Linked DNA regions of Homo sapiens. The protein of the gene in region 3 interacts with the protein of the main gene of each other region in a biochemical or structural test. Each region holds a gene or a part of one and is shown on either strand. Other genes may lie near its edges. The genes, in order: CHUK, IKBKB, NFKBIB and DNAJA3.

Region 1 (3,783 bases), on a different chromosome or scaffold from region 3:
CTACACCCAGCCTAGAACGCCAGATTTGACTTACTCACTGTGTGATCTTGTTACTTAGCCAATTTGTGCTTCAATTTTCTCCTGTGTGGTGAAAGTATTAATAAATCTACCTATAATAGGATTATTGTGACAAGTAACTGAGTTAATATATTTAAAATGTTTACTGCTTGGCACTTAGAAATGTAATAGTAGTAATAGTGATGGTATTTTTATGTGTGTTTTCTTTTAAAAAATTACTAATTTTTAATTATACAAATCAGAAATTAGAATATTATAAATAATACTGATCTTTCCCCCTCTGTTCATCCACCCACAATTAAGTAGCATTTCAAATCCAGTCCCTTTTTATTGGAAATAATTTTTTTTATTGTAATGTTTTTCTTTCTTATTAGGTTGAACCATGCCAATGTTGTAAAGGCCTGTGATGTTCCTGAAGAATTGAATATTTTGATTCATGATGTGCCTCTTCTAGCAATGGAATACTGTTCTGGAGGAGATCTCCGAAAGGTAGTGTGGATGTTTTGAGATGAGAGAGAGTAAATCACAAACTTTAGCAATGTTTGAATCATGTTAAATATAATAAACTAGAATAAGAATCGGAAAAACTATGGTCTGCTTCCTGTTTTGTAAATAAAGTTTTATTGGAACACAGCCACATTCATTTCTTTACACATTGTCTATGGCTGCTTTCTTATGGCTGCAGAAGTGAGTAGTTTTAACAGAGACTATGTGACTTGCAAAACCTAAAGTATTTACCATATGGTTCCTTACAGAAAATGTTGACTCCTGATTTAGAAAATGCATTTTTGTTGTTGCTGTTTGATGGGACTATAGCAATGGTGTTAGATGAAAATTTCAGTGGTTAAGGTGCTTATAAAAAGTTGTTTTCTGTATTGCAATCTTTTTTTTCTACCTAATTTTAAATGTGCCCATATGACCATTTTTATATATATCCATGAGATTTGTCAGCCTTTTCCAGTTTCAAATGCTTTTTGCCTCTTTTTACTTTTATGAGCCTTATCATGAAATTTACATGCCCTCAGTATGGATTTGGTAATTTTATTCCCTTGTATTTTATTATGACTTATTTTCTCATTTGAATATTCTTTTAGAGTATAGTAATTAATGTGTGGTCACTATTGCAGCCCAGCAATTTGCAGAACAGATTTTTAGATTTCTTTCTTTTTTTAGCTGCTCAACAAACCAGAAAATTGTTGTGGACTTAAAGAAAGCCAGATACTTTCTTTACTAAGTGATATAGGTACGTATCAGTATTAAAATACCATTGTAATGTAATGTCCCTTTGGCCCATAAAAGATCTTTTTGGGAATTCAGGAGAATTGTTGATACACTATACAAAGTCTATAGAATTTCAACATCTATAAGAAGTTATAAAAATCTATTACTATTGATGCTAAATTAAAACTAGGATATTTTGGCTAGGTGCGGTGGCTCACGCCTGTAATCCCAGCACTTTGGGAGGCCAAGGTAGGCGGATCACAAGGTCAGGAGTTCAAGACCAGCCTGGCCAACATAGTGAAACCCCATCTCTACTAAAAATACAAAAATTAGCTGGGCACAATGCCGCATGCCTGTAGTCCCAGCTACTCGGGAGGCTGAGGCAGGAGAATCGCTTGAACCCAGGAGATAGAGGTTGCAGTGAGCCGAGATTGCACCACTGCACTCCAGCTTGGACAACAGAGTGAGACTTTGTCACACACACACAAAAAGAAACTAGGATATTTTATTATTTATTTGTGGCTAAGAGTCCTTTTTTTGTCTAATAGATGTTCCAATAGCTGACAAAAAAATCATGTGAAATGACCTTACTCAATTTCTCTCCCCCCCTACCATTGACATAGTAATTTTGTTTACAGTGGAATTACATCTCCTTGAGGGATGGGTCCTCAAGTCAACTCTTTTTTGTTTGTTTGTTTTGAGACGGAGTCTAGCTCTGTTGCCCAGGCTGGAGTGCAGTGGTGCGATCTCAGCTTACTGTAACCTCTGCCTCCCAGGTTCAAGCGATTCTCCTGCCTCAGCCTCCCGAGTAGCTGGGATTACAGGTGCCCGCCATCACACCTGGCTAATTTTTGTATTTTTAACAGAGACGGGGTTTCACTGTGTTGGCCAGGCTGGTCTCAAACTCCTGACCTCGTGATCTGCCCGCCTCGGCCTCCCAAAGTGCTGGGATTACAAGCGTGAGCCACCGCACCCAGCCAAGTCAACTCTTCAGGGTGAAAAATCTCTGCTTAATCAGAATGACTCCAGAAAAATTCCTAAAATAACCAGTACCTAACCTTTTGGAGGAACCTCAAAAACCAAAAATTTGTTTCCCCATAGATTTTGGTTTTGCCTCTTTTCCAAGGTCATGAGGGCTAAAGTCCAATTGAAATGAGTGATTTAGGTGGGAGAAAGAGGCTTATAAGAGTTTCAGGGATTTTCCCAATTGCTTGTTGCATTTCTATTTGGTGTTAATTCTAATGAGTTAAATGAACATATAGTATAATTTTGTAGTATTTGTTTAATGTTACTTTTTTTTCTGTGAAGAAAACCTGGACACTGTAGTATTAGTTGTGTAGTTACGATGATCCATATAAACTTGAGCATCAGAGTAGATTTGTACAAAATGTGAGGTGAATTTTTCTTTTAACTCAATGATTTCTGTTACTTTAAAGTATATTTTAAACTTTATTTAGGGTCTGGGATTCGATATTTGCATGAAAACAAAATTATACATCGAGATCTAAAACCTGAAAACATAGTTCTTCAGGATGTTGGTGGAAAGGTAGGTGAAACCTGAAGTAATGTTTCATGCCTATTGAATATAGTCTCTCTGATATAGTTAGTCCTTGAGCTTTGGTGTCTTTGCTGTATGCCCATAACAGTCTTACTTTTTCCATTTCAGACCTCACCACACTGAACTGTAGTTTTGTGTTTAGTTTTTTTGTCCCTTCTGCTAAACAGTGGTTCCATCAGAGAAGGAACAGCACCTGCTTTTTTTTTCTTTTTCTTTTTTTTCATTTTTCATACTTAACCCAGCTCCTAGACTTCACCTGTCTTGTTCAAGTCTGTTTTTCCATCATAGTATCTAGCAAAGATACAGGCTGTGAATACATAATATGTTAACACTTATTATTTTATTCTTATGAAGCACATCCAAAACACATACATGCACATCCTGGGTCCACTTTAAGAAAAAAAAGAAAGTATATATATTTTTAAAACTTATTTTCCTTCCCCCAATTTAAATGAGTCATCTGGAGAAGAACCAGAAATTGTGAATTGACTCTTAAAATGTTCATTTCATTGGTAACTTAAGCAGTTTTCTTGTTTCCAGCATCCAAATTTCATTCCAATAAAGACTTAAAGGCCAAGAGTCTGAACCTTGTGTTGAGTTGTGTGTGCCGTCTCTTTAGTTAGTGAAAATAGTTGTTGGCCTCTTGGAGGTGTTGGAACCTTGGTGATGCCTCTTCTCTTAGGAACCTTTCACGTATGCTTGGCACCAAATATCTCTGCTTTTTTTTTTTTTAATCCAAAGACTTCAGGACATTCCTGAAGTTAGATCTAAGTATTTACTCACATTTAATCTACTATAAGGAGGTATGATGCTTCTTCAAGTTTGGAAGTCACCCTTGCCTTTACTTTCCAGTTTAATGGATTGAGCTTATTTTGAATATAGTAAAATAAAAATTAATAGCCCACCTGTATTCAATTTTTACCATGTACCAAGCACTGTGTTACCTTCTTTACTTTCGTTATTTCATTGGATCCTAATAACAATTC
Region 2 (3,783 bases), on a different chromosome or scaffold from region 3:
ACTTTTTGTTTTCCATTTGCTTTAAGAGCCTCGCCTCTCGACTCTAAATGGAAACCAGTGGTCAGTTGGTTGTGGATGTGGCTGGGAAGAGGCACTGGGAGCTGGCCTCTGCTGCCAAGCCTGGTCCAGCCTATAGTTTCCCCAGAGCTCTTTGTGGCCTCCTCAGTGGCCACCCGGCTCAGACGTGGTGTTGACTGCCCCACAAGCTTGACATTGTGGTCTTTACCCACCCACTCTATGTGTTCAGCTGGGGTGGTGAGCACAGGCTCAGCTGAGTGGAATACAGTGAATGAGTTCTTAGATCACCTAATCCCTTCCCATACAGCTGCCCTTAGCACCTAGGCCTGGCCTGTGACTACCACAGGGCTCGCCCTTGTTCCAGTTCACCCTCACTCCTGTCAGTGGTGCTCAGATTTGAGAACTGAGGGCATTTACTGAGAAGAGGCTGGCCCGGTCCTTCCTGTTTCAAGTCTGGGTTTAGCTGTCTTGAGGGCTGGTGCCTGTTCTGTTCATTCAGCTTCCCTCTGATGATGCGTGGCAGAGTGTGGGAGGACACGTGCCTAGCATTTTTACAATATGCCTTTTCTTTTAGCCCTGAATCTACCGTGTCGAGGGCATTCTTTTGTGTATCTGGTGGCTCTTAGGAGTTTGGGATCTAATAGTACCTGGGAATTCAGAAATACCTCTGCTCTAACACCAGGCAGTCAGAATCCTCGTAGAAGGACATTGTGTTCTTATAACCCTCAGCTTTCTCCTTCCTTTTGTTTTAGTTAATACACAAAATTATTGACCTAGGATATGCCAAGGAGCTGGATCAGGGCAGTCTTTGCACATCATTCGTGGGGACCCTGCAGTACCTGGTAAGAAGTGGGCCTTGCCTGTTTGCCTGTCAGCTCCTCCCTGCTGCTGCATTTGTGGGGCTCCTGTCCTGCCTTGCTCCCAGCACCTGAGTCCCACCGGCTCTCTGAATGTTTTGGAGATGCATGAGGTCACACCCATAACCTGGTCGAGTCAGCATTTTTTGCCACCAGATGCCCTGTGGAGGGATGTGGTCGTCTTCTCTGATGTCCGGAGGGCTCTGCTCATGCGCCTTGCACCATCCCCTAGCCTCTCTGTGCTTCAGTGTCTTCTCTGAAAGGAAAGGGTTTTAAACAGATCCATGCTGGTCTTGAGCGGTCCTCCCACCTCAGCCTCCTGAGCAGCTAGGACTACAGGCAGGAGCCACTGAGCCTGGCCGAGGCCACACTTTCCATGAGGTATTTCAGGGGCCACTGAGTAGGGGTCAGAGCTCTGAGCTCCCCACCCTTTGTTTACGTTATTTGGTCTGAATATTAGGTTTCTGTTTGAGTCACTCATTCATTCAAGCATATTGATGGAGTGTAGTCTGTGTCAGGCACTGTGCTCAGGGCTGGTGATGCAGTGGGGAAAAAAGACAAGCCCTTTTCGGCCTTCAGAGCTTAGGGTTTAGCAGGAAAGCAAGCATTACTGTGATGCTTACACAGATAACTAAGAAATTACAGTTGTGGTGAGTGTTACAAAGCAAGAGTGCAGGGTGTTGCAAGAATATATATTGGGTGGCCTCAGCCTGGTCTGGGACTTGAAGGGTAAGGAGGTGAAAAGGGCTGGAGGTGGGGGACGGCAGGGGGAATTCCGTGCAAAGGGATCACACACAGGAAGACCTGCAGGTGTGGCTGGAACCGAGCACAAAAGGGAAAGAGAGTCTTGAGTTGAAGCTGAGAACAAGGTAGAGCACAGATTATGAAGGGCCTTCAGGGCTGGGCTAAAGTTCTAGACTTTATCTTAAAACCTCTGCAGAGATTGATGGGTTTTAAGTGGGAGAAGGAGCAACTCTTTGGAAAGCCCACTCCTGACACTGTGTGGAGAAGGAATCACACTGAACAGGAGGGAAGAGTGGGTGAGGTAGGGGCAGTGAAGATGTAGAGGGCAATTAGATTCCAGGAGGGCTTAGCACAAATGCCCAGCAAGACTTGTCATAGGTTGCTTGATGATGGCAGTAGCCACCACAATTGGGAGTGACTCAAGGAGTCTGCGGCTTTCAGAGTGGGTCTCACAGAGGGCTGTGATTCAGGCGCCTGTGTCCATATGGCATGTGATTTGGTAGATCCTTCTGGAGTCCTCCTCAGCTCAGCAGCAGTCGAGCAAGGGGGACCCCATGCTCTAACCAGGAGCTGAGTCAAGTCATGTACTCACATGAGCTAAAACGTCTGCCCATAACCAGACATAGAGGTTGACCTACCCATCCCGGAATGTCTTCTCTTGGTTTGGTCTCCCGGGCCCTTCCTTAAGCTTCACATTTCCAACCAGACCATGCACCACCCTGTCTCTGTGCTTTTGCTTGCCCCAGTCATTTCTGTCTCCACCCACCTGCTAAGCCCAGTCTGCACCCCCAGCACCCCGTGCTGCCGCCCCTTCTTCGGTCACCCCAGCGCTCTCTGCCTCAGCAGCAGCCATGCATCACACTTTCCCTGCCTGTTTCTAAATATCCTGGCCCTTTCTGCAACCACATGGTACCTGGTTCAGGGGTTCAACCAGCACTTAATGCGTGTATTTGGTGTGGACAGCCTGGCATCATTTTCCTTTAACATTTGTAGCCTCTCTTCCCATTTCTACACAGTGCCCACGACTGTGTCCTGCCTTAAGCTAGTTTTCAATAAGCGCCTGAAATGCTGCAACCCTTTTTTTTTTTTTCCTTTTTTTTCTTTCTTTCTTTCTTTTTTTTTTTTAGACAGAGTCTCACTCTGTTGCCCAGGCTGGAGTGCAGTGGCATGATCTTGGCTCACTGCAACCTCCACTTCCCAGGTTCAAGCGATTCTTGTGCCTCAGCCTCCTGAATAGCTGGGACTAAAGGTGCACACCACCATGCCCAGCTAATTTTTGTATTTTTAGTAGAGACGGGGTTTCACCATGTTGGCCAGGCTGGTCTCAAACTCCTGACCTCAAGTAATGCGCCTACCTCGGCCTCCCAAAGTGCTGGGATTACACGTGTGAGCCACTGCGTCCAGCCTGCAACCCTCAGTTTTAAAGGAGAGAAGTTAAAGCCTAGCGATGGGTGTGTGATGTACTCTGGCCCTGAATCTTTAGCCCCTCCATCAGTACCTACTGGAGTGAGTGGGACATAGAAAGGTCTTAGAAATGGTAGCATGATATACCCGCTAAACATGCCTGGGGTGCCCTCCTCGCCCTGCATGCATGTGCCAGTGCCCTCTAGGATGAAGCCAGGGGTGAAAGCAGATGGGCTGGCCGCCCCCTCCTGCCGTGGTCCCCCCAGAGAGGAGCAGCTCAGGTGTACCCCCTCCTGTTGCTGCAGGCCCCAGAGCTACTGGAGCAGCAGAAGTACACAGTGACCGTCGACTACTGGAGCTTCGGCACCCTGGCCTTTGAGTGCATCACGGGCTTCCGGCCCTTCCTCCCCAACTGGCAGCCCGTGCAGTGGTGAGTGGGCCCGGGGCACCTGGATGGAGGAGGGAGCCTGTCTGTTCCTTTCTCTTCACGTACCCTGTTTCCCTGGCGCCCCATCACCGGGCCTGGGAGATCTGTGTTGTTTCTCTTCCGAGAGGAAGGCCTGTCAGGACCTAGCACGAGTAGGGGAGTGGTCTGTGCTCCAAGGACCTGTTAATAGATAGAGTAGCTGTTAAGTCTTCATGTGGATTCTGAGCCTTCACATCTTTAAATACAATGCTGTGTCAGTGTCATCTGCTCTGTGTTCAGAAGTAAGACTATTGTATGAATATACGCACTTACACTGAGAATGCTGTGTGTTAG
Region 3 (4,276 bases):
GTATTTTTAGTAGAGACAAGGTTTCACCATGTTAGCCAGGATGGTCTCGATCTCCTGACCTTGTGATCTGTCCGCCTTGGCTCCCAAAGTGCTGGGATTACAGGCATGAGCCACTGAGCCCAGCAGCCATACAGTTTCTTTTGACTACTCGACTCTGCTGTGTCAGTGCAAAAGCAGCCACTGACAATATGTAAATGAGTGAGCTTGCTTGCGTTCCAAAAGAACTTTATTTATGGAGCTTGAAATATGAATTTCATACACTTTCACTTGCCATATAATATTATTATTCTTTTGATTTTTAGAAACTGTTTAAAAATGTAAAGACCATTCTTAGCTCACAACCATACAAAAGCCATATAATATTATTATTCTTTTGATTTTTAGAAACTGTTTAAAAATGTAAAGACCATTCTTAGCTCACAACCATACAAAAGCAGATGGCTGGCTAGATTTTGCCTGGAGGCCATAGTTTGCCAACCCCCACCTTAAAGCAACCACTAACATAACAAAAAGAGGAATATCTAATAAGCAAACAAAAGAAATAAAATGAGGCCGGGCGCGGTGGCTCACGCCTGTAATCCCAGCACTTTGGGAAGCCGAGGCGGGCGGATCACAAGGTCAGGAGATCAAGACCACGGTGAAACCCCGTCTCTACTAAAAATACAAAAAAAATTAGCCAGGCGAAGTGGCAGGTGCCTGTAGTCCCAGCTACTCGGGAGGCTGAGGCAGGAGAATGGCATGAACCTGGGAGGCGGAGCTTGCAGTGAGCCGAGATTGCACCACTGCACTCCAGCCTGGGTGACAGAGCGAGACTCCATCTCAAAAAAAAAAAAAGAAATAAAATGAAAAACACTATACAGAAGGAGCAGGATTGAAAAAAAAGTAACAAAAACTATACCCAATAAAAGGCAAAAAGGAGGGAGGAAAAAGAAAACATAGGTAAGTAGAATATATATAATAGACATGGGATAAATTTACACAATCATATCAATATCAAATTAAATGTAAATGGTCTAAACACTAATTAAAAGGCAGAGACTGTCTGGGCACAGTGGTTCATCCCTGTAACCCAGCACTTTGGGAGGCCAAGGTGGGAAGAATGCTTGAGCTCAAGAGTTTGAGACCACAGCTGCACACAGTGGCTCACACCTGTAATCCCAGCACTCTGAGAGGCCACAGCGGGTGGATCACCTGAGGTCAGGAGTTTGAGACCAGCCTGGCCAACATGGTGAAACTGCTGTTGCTACTAAAAATACAAAAATTAGCCAGGTGTGGGGGCACGTGCCTGTAATCCCAAATTTGGGAGGCTGAGGCAGTAGAACTGCTTAAACCCAGGAGTCAGAGGTTTCAGCGAGCAGAGATAGTGCCACTATACTCCAGCCTGGGTGACAGAACAAGACTCTGTCTCAAAAAAAAAAAAAGAGTTTGAGAACATAGGGGGACAAAAAAATTTAAAAATTTGCCAGGCATGGTGGCATGTGCCTGTGGTCCCAGCTACTCAGGAGGCTGAGGTGCAAGGATCACTTGAGCCAGGAGGTTGTGGCTATAGTAAGCCATGATCATGCCACTGCACTCCAGCCTGGGCGACAGAGTGAGACTTCGTTTCAAAAAAAAAAGTCAGAACAGAGACCAATTGAATAGAAAGTAAAAAAAAATTAATGAAACCAAAATTAATTAATGAAATTTAATGAAAATTAACGAGACTATAAAGCTGGTTGAGATCAATATTCAGTGCCTCCTGGATCAGGCCCTGCTTGCATCACTGGGCATACAGCAGTAAACACAACAGACAAAAAACCCAGTACAATCCCTCATCTGGGCCTTTGCAACTGCAGTTCCTTCTCCTTGAAATGCTCTTATCTTGTTTATCTATTGCCTCATTTTCCTGCTTTATTTTTCTCCAAAGTACTTAACTACCTCTGACTTTATTTCCTTTTCTTACTTTCTATGTTTCTTTCTTTCTGCGTGTCTTTCTTTGTTTCTTCCTGTCTTTCCATTTCTTTCCTTCCTTGTGGTCTTATCAATCTGTTTATTTAGCTCCACTAAAATGTATGCTCCACAAGGGCTTAAGTTTTTGTTTGTTTTCTTCACTGCCTTTATCACTAGCACCTAAACGGAGCCTGGAACGTGGTAATGTGTAAAGAATATTTGTTTAACAGATGAATCCTTGGTCTCATGGAGCTAACATTCTTTTTTTTAATTTTCCTATTTTTTTACTTTAATTAGGAATTCAACATAGAAGAGCTTACATTCTCTCTCTTTGAATTTAAGATTTGAAGAACACTGCTCAGAAGACAGGATCTTAGAGTCAGGGACCAAGTATTAATTTCGGAAATCAAACTCTAGGGCTCAAATCGGGAACTAAGAATCAAAGATCATATTTGGAGGTTAGAAGTCAGGAGAAGCCACAGTTCTAACAGAAGTCTCAGGACTGGAGTCAGGTTTGGGTATCAGTGGATACAATGTGGATTCCAGGAGCTGAGAATCATAGTTCAAGAAAAGAAGGTAAGAAATGATTGGGTTAGGATCATAGCTAGATAGAAGATTGGTTTTGTTAAAAGTTAGGACTCGGGGGTTAGAGGTCAGGAAGTTCAGCATCGGAAGTCAGATTTAGGAGTATGAGGTTAGGAAGCCTCAGGGATCAGAGATTAATGAGGAATGTGACGCCGGGTCCTAGGGCTCCGTTTGGCAGCCTAAGGTTCACTCACGTGTCCCCATCCTCAGTGACGTAGCCGAAGACGAGGGGAGCCCACGACAGCCCCGGGCCCAACTCCGCGCCCAACCCAGGTCCTCCGGGGGCCGCTGCGTCCGGACCCAGGGAGCCCAGGCCGCTGTCGCACCATTCATCTGCGTCGGCAGCTTTTCCCAAGCACGCGACCCCAGCCATGGCCCCCGCCGCCTCAGGGGCCCCCCGCAGTCGCCCGCCTGTAGCTGGGCTTTGCCGGGAGTTCTGGAGCTTCCGCCCTGCGGGAAATTCCCCACCACGCCCCCTGATTCACCCAATGATAATATGCTGAATCGCTCACACCCCGCCCTCGTACTGCATCCTGACCAATCAGAGTATTCGGGAGGACTACAACTCTCTAGCCGTTCCCACATTTTCCGGGCGCCCTTTACCAACATGGCTGCTGACGCCACGCCTTCTGGGACTCGTAGTCCGGTCCTCGCGCGCTTTCTTACCTAACTGGGGCGCTCTGGGTGTTGTACGAAAGCGCGTCTGCGGCCGCAATGTCTGCTGAGAGTTGTAGTTCTGTGCCCTATCACGGCCACTCCCATTTCTGGTGCCGTCACGGGACAGAGCAGTCGGTGACAGGACAGAGCAGTCGGTGACGGGACACAGTGGTTGGTGACGGGACAGAGCGGTCGGTGACAGCCTCAAGGGCTTCAGCACCGCGCCCATGGCAGAGCCAGACCGTGAGTCGGGGATCCGGGTAGGAGGGTCGGGCCGCGCCGGGGCCTGGCTGAATGCTGCAGGCCCCGGGGCCCAAGGGTGGCCGCGGTGGGGCGGGAAGTAGGGAGCGCTTCGGGGAGTGGGATTCTGAGGGCTGTTGCTTAGCGATCTGTATCGCTAGGCTGGTGGGTTTCTGGGTCGCAGTGTGTTCAGGGTTCGTTTACCACATCCACTTGCCAAGTTGCCAATGATCGCGTGTTTCTCGCACCTTGGTTGCTAAGGTCCCTCGCTGCAAAGAACATAAGTTGCCCCGGTCCCGCTTGCTATGGGTACCTGATTGTTAGAGGCAACCAGAGGATGCTGAGGGACCCCTGCTGACCCCTCCTATGGCTTCCCCTTGTTCCGCGCCTCTCCTAAACCTACCGCCTCCACTGCACCACTGCACCTCCCTCCTAAACCTGCCTCCCAGCCAAAGCGTCTCTTCCCTTCTCTTTTCCTTTCTAAACTTCCCTCTGCCTTGTAAATCTAACCCTCCCCGCACACACACTCACACACTGTCGTGTCCTTCCTAACTCCTCCTGAGTGTTCCTTCATGCCCTGAATCCCCTAGGTAGGAGGAGGAGGATCGCTTGAGCCCAGGAATTTGAGGCTGCAGTGAGCTATGATCGCACTATTGCACTCCAACCTGGGTGACATGAGCGAGACCCTTTCTCTAAAAAGTAAAAAAGAAAGAAAGTAAGTCAGGGCCAGAAACAATGGCTCATGCTTGTAATCCCAGTACTTTGGGAGGCCAAGGTGGTTGGATCGCTTGAGCCCAGGAGTTCAAGACCAGCCTGGGCAAAAGCCCCTACTTTCTCCCTGTCCCCCTAAATCTTCCTCTCCAGC
Region 4 (3,783 bases), on a different chromosome or scaffold from region 3:
GACCGGCCTCGAACATGGTGAAACCCATCTCTACTAAAATACAAAAAATTAGCCAGGGGCGGCATGCACCTGTAGTCCCAGCTACTCGGGAGGCTGAGGCAGAATTGGTTGAACCCAAGAGGCAGAGTGCGTTGCAGTGAGCCGAGATCACGCCACTGCACTCCGGCCCGGGTGACAGAGTGAGACTCCGTCTCCAAAAAAAGAAAAAAAAAAAAAGAACAACAAGGAGCCATACTGTGTCTCTCACTCAAAAAGTCACATAGTAATTGCAAGCCCCCCCAGTTCCCTCTCTGTTCGCCAGAAGATGGACCTGTTTATCCCTGCAAGTGCTGAGTCTCTAAGCACACCATGGTCTTTCTGGGAGACCGGGGTCAGCTCTTAAGGTTTTCAGCAGCTACATTAAGATACTAAACGCATCAAAAACTATGCTGGTCAGGCACAGTGGCTCATGTCTGTAATTCCAACACTCTGGGAGGCCAAGGTGGGAGGATCACTTGAGTCCAGGAGTTTGAGGCTGCCGTGAGCTATGACTGCACCACTGCACTCCAGGCTGGGCCACAGAGCAAGACTCTGCCTCAAATAAATAAATAAATCCCACTGTTGCTTAAGTTCTTAGGACATGAGAATTATATGTCCTGTAATACTGTCATATGTGGATGCAAAACTAACTGTCTTCACAGTATAATGAGAGACTTAACCACCCACAGGCAGCAGACTGACATGTGACGGTGTATGCTTAGGGACAGAGTCTTGCCCTGGCACCCAGGCTGGAGTACAGTGTCGCTGTCATGACTCACCGCAGCCTTGAGTACTAAGGCTCAAGTGATCTTCTCATCTCAGCTTCCCAAGTAGCTGGTGATAGAGGTGCATACTACTTTGCACCTGGCTAGTTTTGAAATTTTTTGTAGAGACAGAGTCTCGCTATATTGCCCAGGCTGGTCTCGAACTCCTGGGTTCAAGTGATCTTCCTGCATTAGCCGCCCAAAGTGCTGGGATTATAGGTGTGAGCCGCTGCATCCGGCCTCACCAAGATCTTTAAAAGGAAGAGCTGACAGTGTCTTGCACACAGGAGAAGACATCCTGGCTGAGTGAGGGAACAGCTGAGTGAGGCTGAGTGATCAGGACAAGTAACCATGGAAGTGACAAAGGATCTCAGTGGGTGGCGGAATCAACTTTCAACTTACAGTATCAGAGAGAGGGTCAAAACATCAACTGGTGACCAGTAATACCCAACCTCCAACAGAGTAAGCAACACCCACGAACCCACCCAGGGCCCGGCCGTAGCACACCTCAAGCTACCCTGATGGGCGGGAGGAGGGAAGGACAGCTGTCTATGGAACCAATCTCGCATGTTATGTGATTGTAGGGTTTGAGGAAGGAGAAGCCACAGGTGCACTGATTAGAGTTCCGGGGAATAGCTACTCTATTACCACTTCTATTTTAGTTCAAGAGATACAACAAGAACAAAAGATAGTATACATATACACAGTATATGTACCAAACCATTAAAATAAGTGACATTTGGAACCTGGTTGGGCTACAGAGTTTTGTGGCAGCTGCTTTTTTGTTGTTGTTTTTTTGAGACAGAGTCTCGCTATGTCACCCAGGCTGTAGTGCAGTGGTGCAATCTTGGCTCACTGCACCCTCTGCCTCCTGGATTCAAGCAATTATCCTGCCTCAGCCTCCAGAGTAGCTGGGATTATGGATGCCCACCACCATGCCCCGCTAGTTTTTGTATTTTTTTTTTTTTTTTAGTAGAGACAGGGTTTCACCATGTTGGTCAGGCTGGTCTCAAACTCCTGACCTCGTGATCCACCCTCCTCGGCGTCCCAAAGTGCTAGGATTACAGGCGTGAGCCACCGCGCCAGGCCCTTTTTTTTTTTTTTTTTTTTTTTTTCAGAGAGTCTCACTGTCACCCAAGCTGGAGTGCAGTGGTGTGGTCTTGGCTCACTGCATCCTCTGCCTCCTGGGTTCAAGCGATTCTCCTGCCTCAGCGTCCTGAGTAGCTGAGATTACAGGCATGCACCACCATACCCAGCTAATTTTTGTATTTTTAGTAGGGATGGGGTTTCGCCATGCTGTCCAGGCTGGTCTCAAACTCCTGACTTCAAGTGATCCACCTGCCCCTGCCTCCCAAAGTGCTGGGATTACAGGCAAGAGCCACTGCGCCCGGCCGGCAGCTGCTTTTTAACAGAGGAATTCCAGTCCCCTGGGAGCAACAGGAGCTCAGTGAAATTCCAGGGACTTCCATCCCAGCCCCTGCCCCTGCCCCTGGAGCTCCAAATCCTCCACTTTATTGGAAAATCGGCCCCCAGCTCCAAACACCTGCTACGAATTACCATGCACTAATCTAAGGCTGCTCAAGTTCTGAGAACTCCACCCAGGATCCAAACAAAAACAAAATGATGCAATGAGGAGGAAATACATGCCGCCTGAACCAAGGACCCCTGGGCACAGCCTGCCCTGCCCTGAGCCAGGAGTCCCAGGAAAGAGGCCCCAGACCCCATGGGAAGAGGGGCTGCAGCTGGGGTGCCATTGTCTCAGCGCCCACAGCAGGTGTTCTGGTGACAGATCCCTAACACAGCCACTCGCTAGCACGATGTCTGAGCTCAGGGTAAATGGTGCATCTGTTCACGGCTAGATAACTTGGAGGGAGTCCTGCTCTAAAGCGGCGGACGGAGTCTGCTGACTGCGGCTCCACTGCTGTGGCTGCTGTTGTTTTAAGACACTCTGAAATCCTGGCGGAGTGTCCCAGGTGGGAAGTGCACAAATCCTTCCAATCCATGCTCTCTCCTTACGCTTTTGCCAGGAGCTCTCAGGGAAGGATTTGTCCGAGGTCACAGGGCAAGTGGCAGAACCAAGAATAGAACTCAGAACACTGGGTCTGAGACACGCAGAGCTGCCTGCAGGAAGTGCCCTGGTGCTCTCACCTCAGCACAGAAACACACACAGAGAGAGGAGGCGAAGCTTGGACTGGGGGCTGCGGCTCCCTGCCCGCTGTCCCCGCCCACAGCCCCCCTCTTTCAACTGCACATTTTAAAGGCTTCATGAAGAACCCGAAGTGGAAACCCCAACATGCTGCCCTGAATTGTCCATACCCTGGGGGGCTCTGAGGCCCCCACGTGTCACCATGTAGTCTTCAGACTCCTTACCAGAGCTGGTGAGGGTGACGCCGTTCACCGTCCCCTCCACATCTGTCTCGTCCTCGGCGTAGCTCAGGATCAGGCTCTGCTGCCGGCTCGTTAGCCTCCTGTGGACCGAGCAGAGTCAGCAGCCAAGGCTTCCGCCGGGAAGCTTTGGAAAGAACTCACAGGCAGCCAGCACCCTCGCAGCACATGGGAAGAGAGGGACCCAACCTTGGCAGGGGCGGACACCCTGAGCCAGTGCAGCGGTGAGAACCTAAGGACCATGCCCTCAAAGCTTCTGTACAGAAAAGCTCCTAAAACACCCTACACTAAGTCATTTAAACAAGTGTCACTGTGGCTATGCTAAATACAGTTTACAGGAGGGGAAACAGATTTTACCAGTGTGTATGTGAAGCAAGTAAGAAATTATCTAATTAGGCCAGGCGCAGTGGCTCATGCCTGTAATCCCAGCATTTTGGGAGGCCAAGGTGGGCGGATCACAAGGTCAGGAGATAGAGACCATCCTGGCCAACAAGGTGAAACCCCGTCTCTACTGAAAATACAAAAATTAGCTGGGCGTGGCGGCACATGCCTATAGTCCCAGCTACTTGGGAGGCTGAGGCAGGAGAATTGCTTAAATCTGGGAGGTGGAGATTGC

The links.
Region 1: of the proteins of NFKBIB (region 3) and CHUK, one has a biochemical effect on the other in vitro, tested with the Homo sapiens proteins (2 studies listed by BioGRID).
Region 2: of the proteins of NFKBIB (region 3) and IKBKB, one has a biochemical effect on the other in vitro, tested with the Homo sapiens proteins (2 studies listed by BioGRID).
Region 4: the proteins of NFKBIB (region 3) and DNAJA3 form a complex in vitro, tested with the Homo sapiens proteins (one study listed by BioGRID).

What each region holds. Positions count from the first base shown.
Region 1 is NC_000010.11:100,219,590-100,223,372, reverse strand, and holds part of CHUK (inhibitor of nuclear factor kappa-B kinase subunit alpha), read left to right. Parts: intron 1-392; coding exon 393-507; intron 508-1,191; coding exon 1,192-1,261; intron 1,262-2,696; coding exon 2,697-2,785; intron 2,786-3,783.
Region 2 is NC_000008.11:42,305,573-42,309,355, forward strand, and holds part of IKBKB (inhibitor of nuclear factor kappa-B kinase subunit beta), read left to right. Parts: intron 1-770; coding exon 771-860; intron 861-3,328; coding exon 3,329-3,453; intron 3,454-3,783.
Region 3 is NC_000019.10:38,898,644-38,902,919, reverse strand, and holds the start of NFKBIB (NF-kappa-B inhibitor beta), read right to left. Parts: upstream 2,952-4,276; 5' UTR 2,888-2,951; coding exon 2,709-2,887; intron 1-2,708. Other genes in the region: SIRT2 (NAD-dependent protein deacetylase sirtuin-2), read left to right, coding at 3,399-3,414. UniProt on the Homo sapiens protein: Inhibits NF-kappa-B by complexing with and trapping it in the cytoplasm.
Region 4 is NC_000016.10:4,449,867-4,453,649, reverse strand, and holds part of DNAJA3 (dnaJ homolog subfamily A member 3, mitochondrial), read right to left. Parts: intron 3,251-3,783; coding exon 3,153-3,250; intron 1-3,152. UniProt on the Homo sapiens protein: Modulates apoptotic signal transduction or effector structures within the mitochondrial matrix. Affect cytochrome C release from the mitochondria and caspase 3 activation, but not caspase 8 activation.